2 separate regions of the Homo sapiens genome follow, and region 2 is linked to region 1. The links come from fine-mapping of genetic effects on gene expression. Tissue or cell type: whole blood. Region 1 holds a variant in brackets; the other region holds the start of a gene. All regions are shown on one strand. Distances are between the middles of the regions.

Region 1 (7,443 bases):
CCTGTCTCTACAAAAAAAAAAAAAAAAAAAAATATATATATATATATATATATATATATATATATATATATATATATATATATAAATAGCCAGGTGGGGTGGCATGCACCTGTAGTCCCAGGTACTCTGAATCCTGAGGTGGGAGGACCACCTGAGCCTAGGGAGGTTGAGGCTGCAGTAAGCCGTGATCGTGCCACTGCACTCCATCCTGGGCAATAGAGAGACTGTGCCTCAAAAAAAATAAAACTAAATAAATAAAGGATTGGATTGAGGCAGGAAAGAAACAGGTGCATTACTCAGCAAAAAGTTGGCAACTATGGTGGGTTCCGATGCAGGCAAGAGACATCACCCAAGAGGTAACTCAAACATGCATCTGGCTAAGATAAAATAATCTGGGAGAGCAGGTGGGGAGATAAACCAGTGTGAAGAATGCACCAACTGAAAAAGAATATTTACAGCCCACCCCACTGCTGTGTGTTTTAGCAGCAATGAAGAAGATACTGGATGTTGTGATGACCATGAGAATGAGGACTGATCCCAGGAAGAGCTGTTGCGTACAGAACCCACAGACAGCGTTTGCCAGCTGATTTTGTTGTCGCGTGGAAGGGAGAAGGGAGAATTTGAGTCCAAGTGACAAGGAGACGTAGGTTAATCTCGTGCCGTGGAGTGAACTGAGAGGGAAGAAGGACTCCATTTACACAGATTGGGGAAAGCGTTACCCAGTACAGGCCCAGGGTACACGTGCACCAAGCTAACTGAGCCAGATAGTTTATGACTCCTTTAGTGGAGGGGTTGGCAAACTATGGTCTGCGGGCCAAATTTGGCCCAACACCTATTTCTGGAAATGAGGCTTTATTGGAGCATACGCGCACCCATTTGTTTACATATTGTCTTTGGCTCCATATGTGCTACAGTGGCTGATCTGCATAATGGCCAGAGAAATCTTAAGGCTGAAAAGCTGGAAATACTTACTATCTGCAAAGCTGAAAATATTTACTATCTGACCTCCCTGTTCCTTTGTTCCTTTCCTTTCCCTTTCCCTTTCTTTTTGACAGGGTCTCACTCTGTCACTCAGGCTGTAGTGCAGTGGTGCAATCATGGCTCACTGCACCCTCGACCCCCTGGGCTCAAGCGATCCTCCCACCTCAGCATCCCTCCCAAGCAGCTGGGGCTACAGGCACATACCACCACACCCAGCTAATTGTTGTATTTTTTGTAGAGATTGAGTTTGCCCAGGCTGGCCTCCAACTCCTAAGCTCAAGTGATCTGCCTGCCTCAGCCTCCCAAAGTGCTGGGATTACAGGCGTGAGCCACCACACCTGGCTATCTGACCCTTTTCAGAAAGCGTTAGACCCCTCCTTTAGTGGACACAATCCCTGTTTTTAGCCCATATTCATCATTAAATACTCTGAGGCCAACTGTCTTTTTTATGACCTCTTGCTTGTGCCCTGTCTGTTGAAGCAGGAGGCTTCATATAAACGTCGCCTGTGGCATTATAGCCACCCACAAGAAAAGGAACTATTCCAAGAAGGCACTGTCTTCAGTTCCCACTTCAGGGGTTTCTGACCTGGGAAGAAGACAGGCAGGCACCTCGCCTATCATGTGTGTGTGGCTGCTGCCATCTGGTGTACAGATGCCGTTACTTCCTCACCTTCCTGGAGCCCTCCCCAGCTCCTTCCCATCTGTCCACCTCCCTACCTGGCCAGGTCAGCTTGCACCAAGGTGTTCATTCAGAGGTCATTGTCTCCTGAATTAGGAAGACTCTCAGCCAGCAGAGGGAGGCCTGTAGTTCAAGGGAAACACAGCTTGCTTCTTTCTTTTTTTTTTTTTTTTTTTTTGAGACGGAGTCTCACTCTTTCACCCAGGCTGGAGTGCAGTGGCACGATCTCAGCTCACTGCAACCTCCACCTCCTGAGCTCACACCATTCTCCTGCCTCTGCCTCCCGAGTAGCTGGGAGTACAGGCACCCGCCACCACGCCTGGCTGATTTTTTGTGTTTTTAGTAGAGATGGGTTTCACCGTGTTAGCCAGGATGGTCTCCATCTCCTGACCTCGTGATCCACCCGCCTCGGCCTCCCAAAGTGCTGGGATTACAGGCGTGAGCCACTGTGCCTGGCCCCAGCTTGCTTCTTTCTGTTCTGGTCCCATAGCAGTTTCTTTCTGTTTCAATCACAGAGGAATTCTTCAGACCGTATGTGCTTGGGGAATTGCATGCTTAAGCGGTTTTCCTTTCTGCTGTATCGTCACTTCAAAGAACATGTTCTCTGGAGAGGAGACATGCCCTCAGCTCCCACTTCACTCAGTGGCAGGCATCATTCAAACCAGCAGGGAGAGTAAGACTGTTTATGCTTAAACACTCAGCTTCACATACCACTTCCTGTTTTAAGCTTTGACTAAGCACGCGTCAAGAGACGTTTGTAGTCTGTGGACCTGCCTTGACCTACAGGTGCAGCGGCCATCCCAGAGCAGGCTGTGCACAGCAGAGGAGGCTGGCTGCGAACTTTAGTGTGCCATGGATAGTCCACAAAACACATCCCCAAGATATGACCGGACCAGCTACTGCTAATCAACACCCAGACACTTGGTAAAGGAGGCATGGTTGATTAGTCTACATTTGGATGTAGTATAGCCCATTAAATTACACATGGAGGCATCAAAACCAATTTTAAGATATATGTTTGCCTCTCTGATCAAAGAGGAAAGATCGTAAGTCAGATAAATCCTTTCCCCTGGCTTATACATATATATGTTGATATATTAACAATTATTTAAGACAGCAGCCATTAGTTAACAAAGCAACCCTTTATTTAGAAAGAAAAGTGGCATATTTTGACATATTTTCCTGGTCATTCATCAACATTAGCTAGTAGATGAGCATGTCTGTATGTGTAAGATACGTTACATGTGTGTCTACCTGTCCAAGCAGCCCCTCTACTTTTGCTCCAGTAGATTGTGTGTGTGTGTGTTTGTGTGTGTGTGTAGACAGGATCTTGTTCTGTTGCTCAGGCCGCAGTGCAGTGGCACAATCATAGCTTGCTGCAGCCTTGACCTCCTGGGCTCAAATAATCCTCCCTCCTCAGCCTCCCAAGTAGCTGGGACTCCAGGTGTGCATCCTGTAGATTATTGAAAGCATGCTTGCAGGTTACCTGTAGAGAAGTTACAAAGGAGACTTCATTGTTGTGGCGGGGAGGAGTCTCGGAGAACTCACATGGAAACATTTTAATTATAGTTCACTCTAACATCTTTGAACAAGCAAGCTGTCTTCACTGGCTCCCTCCAAGCCTCCATGCAGCTGCTCTTGCAATGCCTAGACCTGCCCCAGGCAGCACTCAGTCTCCCAGACTCGTGGAGCATCCTAGGGAGACCCTTACTTCCTCAAAGTTGCTGATCTTAACCTCCTCCCTGCCTAGCAACTTGGGTCTCAGCATTCCCAGCCTGGTCTCCCTGGAGAGTGGCTTTTAGCCTGAGAATTGGAGACCCAGCCTGAGGACACTAAGGTACTTGTGGAGAAAATACTTTGACATCTTGATCCCACTGTCCCCACCCTTTCACAGCAGAAAAATGCCCCTCCCACCCTTGAGTCACTTCGGCACAATCCTGTTCTATTCTTTATCTGCAATCGCACATTGTGCTCTCAATTTTATTTTATGCAGGCAAGCTCTTCTCTTGAACCTATCACACTACCCTGTCTGGAATTCTAGAGTGATCTATTGGCAGCTCCTTCTCTTCAGTTTTCCTGGCTCATCCTGCCACACTACACAGCCTCACCTTACAAAGAGACAGTGGAATTTGAAAGTGCCGGCTGGCAGCGGTGGACAGACGGCGCCACCACGCGGTAGCTTGGTA[G/T]CATAGGTTGCTAGACACAGTACCAGAAGGAAAAAGTTTGACCAGGAAAGGTGACTGTGTGTCGCTATCCAAATCTATGTTCGGCTTGTACAGAAGGTGTATCTGCAGAAGGCTAAGGACCATATATGTAAGTTACATGTAACTTTGGACATGTCCAACTTTGCTTTGGATATTTTTCAAAATAGTAACATCCTTATATTCTGGCTGTTATACCCTGATTTTTCACCCCCCATTTAATTAAGCATTTATAAAGCTCGTTATTGTCTTATTTTCCCATGTTGGGAATAAAAGTATAGCTTTTATGTGACCCTACGTAGAGGGGTAGAAATGTGAAATGGGCCAATTAAAGTGTCAGAAGCTACTCCAAGCTTTTGATGGTCTACCCTAGCAGGGGAGCATAGAGGTGCGAAAAGTCCTCACTTCCAGACACCCAAAAATCAGTTCAGTTTTTCTTTTTGCCATTTGGAGGGGAGAGGGTGACATTTACTTTTCTAGTGACTTAAAAACATAATGTTATTTATTGCATGCGTTCTGGGAAGTGAAGAAAGTGGGCCAGGCCAAGGAAGTCCACCGGATGCATGGGCAAAGCCAGACCAGGATCAAACAGGTTCTCACCATCCTATGTAATTTGCCATCAAGTCATTCATCAGTCTGTCCATCCATCCATCCCTTCAATCCACAGAGATTCACTGAGCACAGGATTCATCTTTTTGGAGAGAGAGAACTTAGAATAGTTATTTCATCAACTGCAACTGGGAAAACAGGCTTGAATTTGTAGGACTGGTGGGCTGGACATGACTTTGAAAGATCATCTTGCCTCTTAAGTATTTTTTTTTTTTTTAGCAGTTGAGCTTTTGGAACAAGTTCCTAAGCGAACACTCTGGATGGAATAGATACCACCCTTTCCATGAAAGTTCCCCTCTGCACTTGGCAGAAAATCCCTGATCTAGCCCAAGTCTCTAATGTTATAAGTGAAGAAACTGAAGTCTCAGAGTGGAAAAGGAAGTCATCAGGGATGACTCAAGTCAGAGCTCCTGGTTCCTGAACCCTGGGGCTCTTTCCTCCCCTCTAAGAGCTGATCTGTCTGTAGCTGGTCATGTTTCCATTTCAGAGGGTGGAGGGAACATCCAGGATGTCTCAAAAGGTCTGCTTTCCTCATTGTCTCAGCTTCCCCTCTGAAGCTCACTCCCCCCCACCGCTTTCTTGATGTTTTTTCTCTTGTCCCATTTGAACTGCAAGAAGTGCCCCTCCCATTCTTGGACCACCTGGAAGCTTTTGAGCAAGCTTTTGGAAAATTATCTGTTTTGTGCATTGCAATAGAAAACTCAAATGAAAGGAGCCAGATGGGATTGAGGGCTGGGAAGCGAACAGGGAGAAATGAATCATCTTGGGCCTCATCTCCAGAGTCCTTGTCCAAACCTGGGCAATTCTTATCCCCCTCTGTCCCTCTCTTTCCTCTCCCCTTCTCCCTTCCCATGGCTTTTTATGATAATGCTTTTCAAGCTCCCAATAAGAGCAACGTTTTACAGAAAAAAAAAAATAAAAGGGACAGTGTTTTGCCAGTAAGATGTGTGTTCCCGTGTTAGCACCACTGATCGCCCAATAGTTGCACGTCTAAGATTTTTCTTTGACTGAGAAATCCTACCAGGGAAGAAGAACTACTCCTTGGAGACTTTGTCCTCCACATCCCCAGTTCTGTGCTGACAAATACAATCCCGTCGTTACCTGGAAACCTGGTGATTTTCCAGAACACGTGGAGGAGAATGAAGAACTTAATAGCCATTTGCCTGCAAAATATGCCATCATGGAGCCTGGTGCTTGTGAATCTCTGGGTTGAATTGGATAAACAGATGGACAGATGGGTGAATGATCTGATTACCTGCTAACCTGAGATTGCCCACAAGGTTCCATCTTGGTCTGGCTTCGTCTGTGTCTGGCAGACTTTTACGACCCACTTTCTTCACTCCCCAGGACTGATGGAACAAATAACATTATTCAACGGAAGTCATTCGAAAAGTAAATGTATCACCTCAAAAATGGCAAAAAGAAAAATCTAGTTGATTTTGGGGTGTTCTGAAGTTAGCACTCTTCACGCCTGTACTTTCTTCTCCTAGCACAGACAATCCACATGTAGGGTGATGGTTGTGTGTGTTTGGGGTTGGCCTCACTGGTATTACAAATCCAGTTACTGTCATCCATCTCTTCCTGCTACTACTTACTCTGAAAGATGGTTTTCCTTTGAAGGATGGAGAAATTCTCTAATCCAGACCTCCTGACAGCTAGGCTGCAAACACACACACACACACACACACACACACACACTCTTACACTCCTACAAAGACAAAGAAAATCCTGGGAGGGATTTTAAGACACGTGCTCATTTCAGCACTCTGTCCTCCTGGTGACATCTCTCTATGAAGCATCTGGGACTTCACCTGACAAGCACCTGACAACCTGACTGAGCACTCGGCCCTTACTGTATGTGCCTCAGTTTCTACGTGCATCATGTGAGAAAGGCAGATTGTATCCATGGCTATGAGACTGTTGGGCTTTGTTGGACAATGAAGACGTCCCCCAAATATGTAAAGACTGACAAACGACGGCCACCCTTTATATTTTTCAAAGTGAAGGCATTGAAGGAAAGATGCAATCGTAGACCGCCATGGTCAGTGAATTATTTTATGAGAGATCACCCTTCTAGAAAGTGCAGCCAGGTGCAGTGGCTCATGCCTGTAATCCCAGCACTTTGGGAGGTCGAGGCTGGTGGATCACTTGAGGTCAGGAGATACAGACCGGCTTGGCAAACACAGTAAAACCCTGTCTCTACTAAAAAATACAAAAATTAGCCAGGCTTGGTGGCAGGCACCTGTAATCCCAGCTACTCGGGAGGCTGAGGCAGGAGAATCGCTTGAACCCGGGAGGCGGAGGTTGCAGTGAGCTGAGATCGTGCCATTGTACTCCAGCCTGGGCAACAGAGCGAGACTCTGTCTCAAAAAAGAAAAAAAAAAGTGTTATTTACCACCAGAAATTAGTTCATGAAATCAGGAGCTCAGGATAAAACAAAGTCCTTTCTGTCTTCCAAACAGAAAGACCAAAGACCTTCCAAAGACCTTACTTTTTCCCTCCCCCACCCCACCCCAGTTCAAATTCTGTAAAACAATATGAAAACCTTGCATAATAATACCTGGTTTGTCATTATGCTCTTGATACAAACTAATCCGTTTGAACTCCATTGGGCAATGCGACAAGATGATCTGGACTCTGCAATTTATTCTGCTACTGTTTTCATCTGTTGAAAATCTAGTTTCTTGAAATTGGACGGTGTATTTTTAAAATGTGTTCCCTTGACTTTTGCTTCCCTGTTGTCTTTCCCTGTGTGCAGAAGCCATCAATGAGAGGAGGGCAGGGAGGGAAGGGGAGTCTTTTTGAGAGAAGGAAGTCACAGCCCTAGGAGGGATCTCGATTCTTGAATTCCTAAGTATTATCCCAAAAGAGAATCATTAGCATGGAAAAGAAATTGATACTGGAAGATACTGAATTCCTTTGGATTGACCTTTTTTTTTTCTTTGGCTACTTCATGGAAATGGGGGCCCTGGG
Region 2 (7,443 bases), 370 kb before region 1:
AGAGAAACAGGATGAGAGAGAGGGAGAGGGAGAGAGAGAGAGAGGGAGAGGGAGAAAAACAAAGGTGAGATCCAGGACTCATTGGGGTGGACAACTTTATGCCCGTCTCCATTCTTTCTGCAAAGCTGCTGTCCATGATCCCTCTGCTTGCCCCCCCGCCACCACAGTCTTCCAGGAGGAGGTGCCAGCAGGGCATTTAGCCAGATCAAACCACAGTGACTCCTCTGGAAAGGGCCGCCCACCATCTTGTTGCCTTGCAGTTCCTTTGCGGATGGTTGGCATCAGTCTTAGGGCCCTGTGACGCATGGGAAGCAGCCTTCACTGCCTGCAAATCCCCCTGCCACTGCTTCTGGAGCCACTGTTCTGGTCTGTTCCTGCATATCCCATCCCTTTGCCCTGGGGGCGTCAGGCCACCTTAGGTCCCATGGGAGAGAATAGGAATGGACTGTGGGTGGGGTGGAGGTCAGAGCCAGTGTATTTAGCTTTCAGGAAACATTTTCTTCTTTCTTCTTTTTTTGAGATGGAGTTTTGCTCTTGTCGTCTAGGCTGGAGCACAATGGCATGATCTCGGCTCACTGCGACCTCCGTCTCCCAGGTTCAAGCGATTCTCCTGCCTCAGCATCCCGAGTAGCTAGGCTTACAGGCGCCTGCCACCATGGCCAGCTTATTTTTGTATTTTTAGTAGAGATGGGGTTTCACCATGTTGGCCAGGCTGATCTCGAACTCCTGACCTCACGTGATCCACCCACCTCAGCCTCCCGAAGTTTTGGGATTACAGACGTGAGCCACCGCACCTGGCCCAGGAAACATTTTCTTCTGGCCAATACTCTGGCCCTTTTGACTGTAAGGAAGTATGTGAAAGGGGGCAGTTTGCATGTTTGCGGAGTGGGCATATGTGTGGGAGTTTATTGAGAAAGATGGGGAAATGGTAAGATTTGTCTCCTGGGGGTTAGCACCCCTCCCGCTTATGGGCTTGGTGTGGTTTAAAGAAAGTGAGATGCAGAAATGCTGATCAAGGTGGCTCTGGGTCTCATCCTGTGAGCCCTGAATGCCCCATGCAGGAAGGGCACCATCTCAGGAGTCAGCTGGGCTTGGTGTCCCACACTGCCCCATGGACCTTGGGTCACTCCAGAGCTTTCCTGAGCCTCAATTTCCTTATCTGTAGAATGGGGATAATGATACCTTCCCCTCAGAGTTGTGAGTTTTACATAAGAAGAGGATATAAAGATAAAGTGGCCCAGGTTGGGCATTCAACAAATGTTAGTTGCTTCCCCACTTTTCCTTTCCCACATCAAGTTTACCTATGCATTGCATGCAAGCATCTCTTGAGGACATGCTATAATATGAGGTGCTATCCTGGCTGGGATGAGGGGAAGAAGCTCAGTAAGGAGCTTGATTCTAATCCTGGGTCTGTATGCCGAATATAGCAGTGAAGTTAGATCCTACAGTATAAGACAGAAGGAGGCAAGTGCCTTAGAATCCAGATGGAGTTCTATGGGACCTTAGAGGATAGAGACTCGATTTGTAACCAGGGCTGGGACAGGTGGGAGATGAGGTCAGATGGGGTGCCCAAGGAGAATGCATTAAACCTGGGTCTTGCAGGATGGTGGGGCTTAGATTTGGGAGGCGAAGGGCAGTTCAGCAGAAATGGTATAAGGGAGATAGGAGTGGCAGGGAGGGAAGGCTGTGTGGAGGACAGCGAGCTGTCCAGCCTGGCTTGGCCAGAGGGCACAGGGAGGAGAACCCTGGGAGACAGACTTGAGAACGTTTAGTTGGAATCATACCACAGCAAAACTCAAATTCCAGGCTGAAGCATTTGAACTTTATGCCAAAGGCACTGGGGAGCTATCGGAGCTTTTTGAGCAGGAGAGTGTGATGTGCTGTGCTTTAGGCAGGCTGATCTTGGCGGTGCTACATGGAACAGACTAGACAGGGTGGAGTGGAAGGAGGTGACTCCATGACCTAGATGAGGGATGGGCAGGTTGAATCCTCACAGCAGCAGTGAGAAAGGAGAGAAAGGATTGGGCAGGAGAGGCACTTTGTGGATCGTTGTAAACATTTCTGTTTATTTTTCATTATAAAGAATTTAAGCGGCTGGGCGCAGTGTCTCACTCCTGTAATCCTAGCATTTTGGGAGGCTGAGGCAGGTGGATTGCTTGAGCTCAGGAGGTTGAGACCAGCCTGGCCAACATGGCAAAACCCCGTCTCTACTAAAAATACAAAAAATTAGCTGGGTGTGGTGGCACGCACCTGTAGTCCCAGCTAATTGGGAGGCCAGCTGAGGCAGGAGAATCACTTGAACCTGGGAGGTGGAGGGTGCAGCGAGCCGAGATTGCACCACTGCACTCCAGCCTGGGTGACAGGGCGAGACTCCGTCTCAAAAAAAAAGAAAAGAATTTAAGCATCCACAAAAGTAGAAACAGAAACATTTAATGAACCTCTACGTGCCCGTTCCCCAGGTTCAACAATGGTTAATTTTTTATTTTTAAGAGACAGGGTCTTTCACTGGAGTGCAGTGGCACCATTACGGCTCACTGCAGCCTCAAACTCCTGGGCTCAAGTGATCCTCCCCACTCAGCCTCCCTAGTAGCTGGGACTACAGGCCCAGCTACCATCTGCCACCATGTCCAGCTACTTTTTAAAAACTTTTTGTAGCGACGAGATCTTGCTTTTTTGCCCAGGCCGGTCTCAAACTCTTGGGCTCAAACAATCTGCCCACCTTGTCCTCCCAAAGTGCTGGGATTACAGGTGTGAACCACCATGCCCAGCCTAAGAATGGTTAATTCATGGCCAATTTTGTTTAATCTCTACTCCATCCACTTTTCTCTTCCATCATATTTTGAAGTGAGTCTAAGATATTGTGTCATTTTATGGCTATTGCAGCGTGCAGGAAGAGGTATGACATTTTGGAAGATGAGTTGATGGGCCGTGCCACATGGGTATTGTGTCTCTGTGTGCCTGTACATACTCTCTTATGTGGAATTGCAATGGCTGATTTGACTCTTCCAAGTTGGGGGTCTTTTAAGGGCAAAGACCACCCTCCAGTGGCCAGGCTGTCTTCTCCTCCCCATGGAGTGCTTGGTATATGGTGCGACCGTCAGTGTGAACAACCTAGTTCCACTGGAAGAAAGAGGCCTGTTATTGGACCCTTTGGGCTATGGCCATCGAGACCACGGGTAGCTTTTCTGCTCAGGTCACGCTCTGATATGTTGTCAAATAAAACACAGGACACTCAGCTGGGTTTCAGTTTCAGATCAACAACAAATATGCCTGTAACATAAGTATGTCCCACACATTGCCCGGGGCATATTTATAGTAATAAATGACGTTATTTTTCTGAAATTCAAATTTAATCAGGCTTTTTTTTTTTTTTTTGAGATGGAGTTTTGCTCTGTTGCCCAGGCTGGAGTGCAGTGGCGTGATCTTGGCTCACTGCAAGCTCGGCCTCTCGGGTTCACGCCATTCTCCTGCCTCAGACTCCCGAGTAGCTGGGACTACAGGCGCCTGCCACCACGCCCAGCTAATTTTTTGTATTTTTAGTAGAGACGGGGTTTCACCGTATTAGCCAGGATGGTCTCGATCTCCAGACGTTGTGATCTGCCCGCCTCGGCCTCCCAAAGTGCTGGGATTATAGGCGTGAGCCACAGCGCCCAGCCCAGGCATCTTGTTTCTATCTATTTATTTATTTTGTTTTGTTTTTGGCTAAATCTAGTCAATCCTATCCTCTGGTCTTTTCACAGAAATCCTGCAGATCAAAGCCTTTGACCTAGGGCAGTGCTTTTCAAAGGGTGGTCCCAGGACAGCAGCATCAGCAACTCCTAGCTCAAAACAAGATCTCAGGCCAGGCGCGGTGGCTCATGCCTATAATCCAGCACTTTGGGAGGCCCACACGAGTGGATCATTTGAGGTCAGGGGTTCGAGGCCAGCCTGGGCAACGTGGTGAAACCCCGTCCCTACTAAAAAAAAAAAAAAAAAAAAAAAAAAACAAAAATTAGCGGGGCTTGGCAGCATGCACCTGTGATCCCAGCTACTCGGGAGGCTGAAGCAGGAGAATCGCTTGAACATAGGAGGCAGAGGCTGCAATCACCCGAGATTGGGCCACGGCACTCCAGCCTGGGCGAAAGAGCGAGACTCCATCTCAAAAAAACAAAAGCAAAAACAAAAAAATCCCAAAATGTCAGCCCCACCCAGAATGACGGAACCAGAGCCTCTGGGGGTGCTGGCATTTTGTGTTTGACCCCCTCCAGTGATTCTTTTGAGGGTCATTGACTGGAGAATGATGCCGATGCCATCACATTACCCGCCCCCAGCCTCTCCCGCAACACACACACAGCACATCCTGCTCTGCTGCGCACCCAGTGGCATGGACCTGGCTGCCAAAGGTGTAGAAGCATAAGTAACATCAGGGGTGTTACAAAGGGCTCTTTCCTTGGGTGTTTGTAGCTTCCCTTAGGGCTGCAGTCACTCGCAGACTGCTGGGCTCTTGGCCTCAGGGCTCTGTTCTGCCCGCCCAGATCTGTTCCTGAGCCTGCAGACGGCTGTGAACCAGAGAATCTATTCTTCAGGCGGGAGTTGCCAGTTGCGGCCAAGGGGGCGGGGCCCGGAGGCGGGAGGGCCACGTGTGCGGGAGGGAAGCAGGAAGTGACTGCGGGAGTGGAGCCGGCGAGAGAGTGGCAGCGGGGGCTGATGGAAGTGCAGTGGGGGCTGGAGAGGGCACCCTAGTGAGTTGGCTTTTCTCTCCTTCGGTGCCTTTGGTTGGGCTCGAGGCCCGGGGTCGGAGGCCATCAGGACAAGAGTGTGGGACTTGGAAGGGCAGCCACCTGGAGCTTGGAAGGGGGTACGCCTGGAGAGAGGAGGGGTTTGGAGGAGAAATTGGAGGCTTTGGCAGGTGTCGGGGCGGGGTGGGAGGGTGAGGGGCGGTGGGAAGGAAGTCCCCGGACCCCGGCTATGTCCCTCTCCAGGGTGATCTGGAAGGCAATGACATGCCTTCCTTTTACAGTCCTAACCCAAATCCTCTTCGTTCGTCCCTTCCTAGGCGGTGTGTGGGGGTACCCGGGATTCCTGGGAGCAGAGGCAGCTACAAATCCAGCTGCTCCCAGGCCCCTCCCACTTGCTCTGGCTGTTAGCTGGACCTCTGGAACTTGACTGGGAATCTGGTTAACTTGCAGCAGGTCTGGGTGGGGCGTGACAGTGTGCATTTCTAACTAATTCCCAGGTTGGGTGGTCCGCGGACCACGCTTTGAGTAGCGAGGCATTAGAGAACTTTTCCACAGTCCTCTCCGCCCAGACCTGAATCCTTCTGCTGGATTCCCCCTCGTGGAGTTAGGGCATGTGTGTGCAGCTCCACTAAGGCCCAGCAGCCCTAGTGCTGTTTCCACTTCTGCAACTTCACCAGCCTCTTGAACTGACTCTTGGAAGCGGAACAACAGGTTTAAAAGGGGGAGAAAGGAAATAAAGAAAACAAACCTGTATCAATCAGCCGGGAATGCCCATGTGCTGCTGTGGCAGGTGTGTACAAGTCTACAGGCTGTTGGCATGTTAAAAGTTGGAACGGTCAGAGAATGATTCTCCCTGCTGCTAACGAATCAGGGTTGATGGAATTAATATCCCCATCGTGAGGAATTCTGAGCCCCATTGTGTAAGCTGTGATGGAGATGCTGTGTCCTAAAGTTGTTACTGGTCTGCCGGTTAGAGAAAACTTCTTGTTCTCTTGGGACTCTGCCAGAAACTTTTTCTTCTCTTGAGACTCTGCAGAAAACTTTCTGTTCTTTTGGGACTCTTCTTTGCTCTTGCCAATCCCACATGGGGCAGGAGAACTCATTTTCTAAGCTCTTGGTATTGTAGAAGTTTTACCAGTTTTATTTATTTATTTATTTTTATTTTTTTTTGAGACAGAGCCTTGCTCTGTCACCCGGACTGGAGTGCAGTGGCGCGATCTCGGCTCACTGCAACCTCCGCCTCCCGGGTTCAAGCGATTACTCCTGCCTCAGCCTCCCGAGTAGCTGGGACTACAGGCACTGGGACTACAGGCACACACCACGACGCCCAAGTAATTTTTGTGTTTTTAGTAGAGATGGGGTTTCACCGTGTTGGCCAGGCTGGTCTCGAACTCCTGACCTCAGGTGATCTGCCCGTCTTGGCCTCCCAAGGTGCTGGGATTACAGGCATGAGCCACTGCGCCTGGCCAAGTTTTACCAGTTTTAATCTTTTGCTTTCCACAGTTTAATGTGCATAAGAATCCCCCATGGAATTCCACAAAATGCAGACCCTGATTCAGAAAGTCTGGGGTGAGACCTGAGTTTCTGCATTCCTAACTAGCTCCCAAGCCGGACCAGTGCTGCTGGTTCTCTGACCACCCTTGTAGCGAGGATTTAAAACAGCAAATAGAGAAGAAACTTCTCCGAGGGGCACTGGGCTTGCATTGCCCGTGATCAATGCTGCTCCTGTTGGGATGGAAAGGATGGTGGCCTCGGTCTTCCCTCTGTGTCCCTTTTTCTTACTCAGGAGGGTGCTCAGATATACATGGGGACAGGCTTAGACGGGTGTTTCCCTATCCCACTAACCACCAGGAACACCCACGAGCTCCCTCTGTTCTGTTCACCAGCCCACAAGATCCACATTGACTTTGGCCTGTTGGCAAATGTAAATTGTTTGCTCTCTTCTGTAGCTGTCAAGAGGCACATTCAAATACAGGAAAGAAAGGTGTTTTTGTTATGCCCTGTCTTGGATGATAAGTACTAAGAGGATGATCCCTTTGTGCTGTTCTTTGTAAATGCTGTTTGAAATTTTGTCCACAGCAACTCGGAATAGATGATTGGTGTAATGGTCCAGATGGCTTGGTTTAAAAACAAAGACCAACCCCTCTTTTTAGGGTGGCTTAGCAAGATGACGGATGTAAAGGGTAGTAGTTTTTTGAAAATGATTTTTTTTTTCTTTAATTGGCGTGGTCACAGTTTTCACAGTTGGTGCAGTTCGTTTAGAGTGCGGGAACTAGAGTCTGATTCCATAGATGCTATTTATCTCAGAGTTTCTGGCACAGGGGCTGAGCCAGGGCTCACCTGGGCTCACCTGGACCTATACCCTTCCTAGGTTTGAGCCTGGGTGTGTTGCTGAGCCGCTTGGCATAAGGGCTGCGTCCACACTCTGCCATGGTTTCCTTCCAGGGTCAATCGAGGCAGCGTCTTCAGCTCTTGATCTGCAGGCTCAGGGCTGCTGGCTCCTCACAGAGCACCGGGAACTGGCAGGGCTGAGCCCAGTGTGGTTGTGTCCAGCCAGCCCTCTGGGTGCTGGCAGACCATCAGGGAGATGAATGAGGCTTTGATATGAGGCCCTGAGCCCAGTGTTTGTGTACCAGAACACAGGGCTTTTCAACAAATGGGTTTCTCTGCCTTGTAACTTTCCACAGGGAGAGATCTGATTGTCATCTCAGATCCAGAATTTTAA

What was found. PIP is the estimated chance that this variant, and not a neighbour inherited with it, causes the effect.
Region 2: SLC39A11 starts here. The variant in region 1 is fine-mapped to the expression of SLC39A11 in whole blood (TOPMed, PIP 0.99).

The regions. Positions count from the first base shown.
Region 1 is chr17:72,722,047-72,729,489 of GRCh38, reverse strand. The region is part of intron 7 of SLC39A11 (solute carrier family 39 member 11); the gene reads left to right. Among named protein-coding and RNA genes, the nearest start is that of LINC00511, 85 kb to the right of the region's middle. RefSeq lists enhancers at 1,506-1,800, 3,880-3,949 and a silencer at 3,760-3,829. The variant G/T (reference allele first, on the strand shown) is at 3,847.
Region 2 is chr17:73,089,889-73,097,331 of GRCh38, reverse strand. SLC39A11 (solute carrier family 39 member 11) reads left to right here and starts at 4,644. Exons shown (of 10, transcript NM_139177.4): 1 at 4,644-4,721. RefSeq lists a silencer at 5,484-5,715 and enhancers at 6,686-7,186, 7,187-7,443.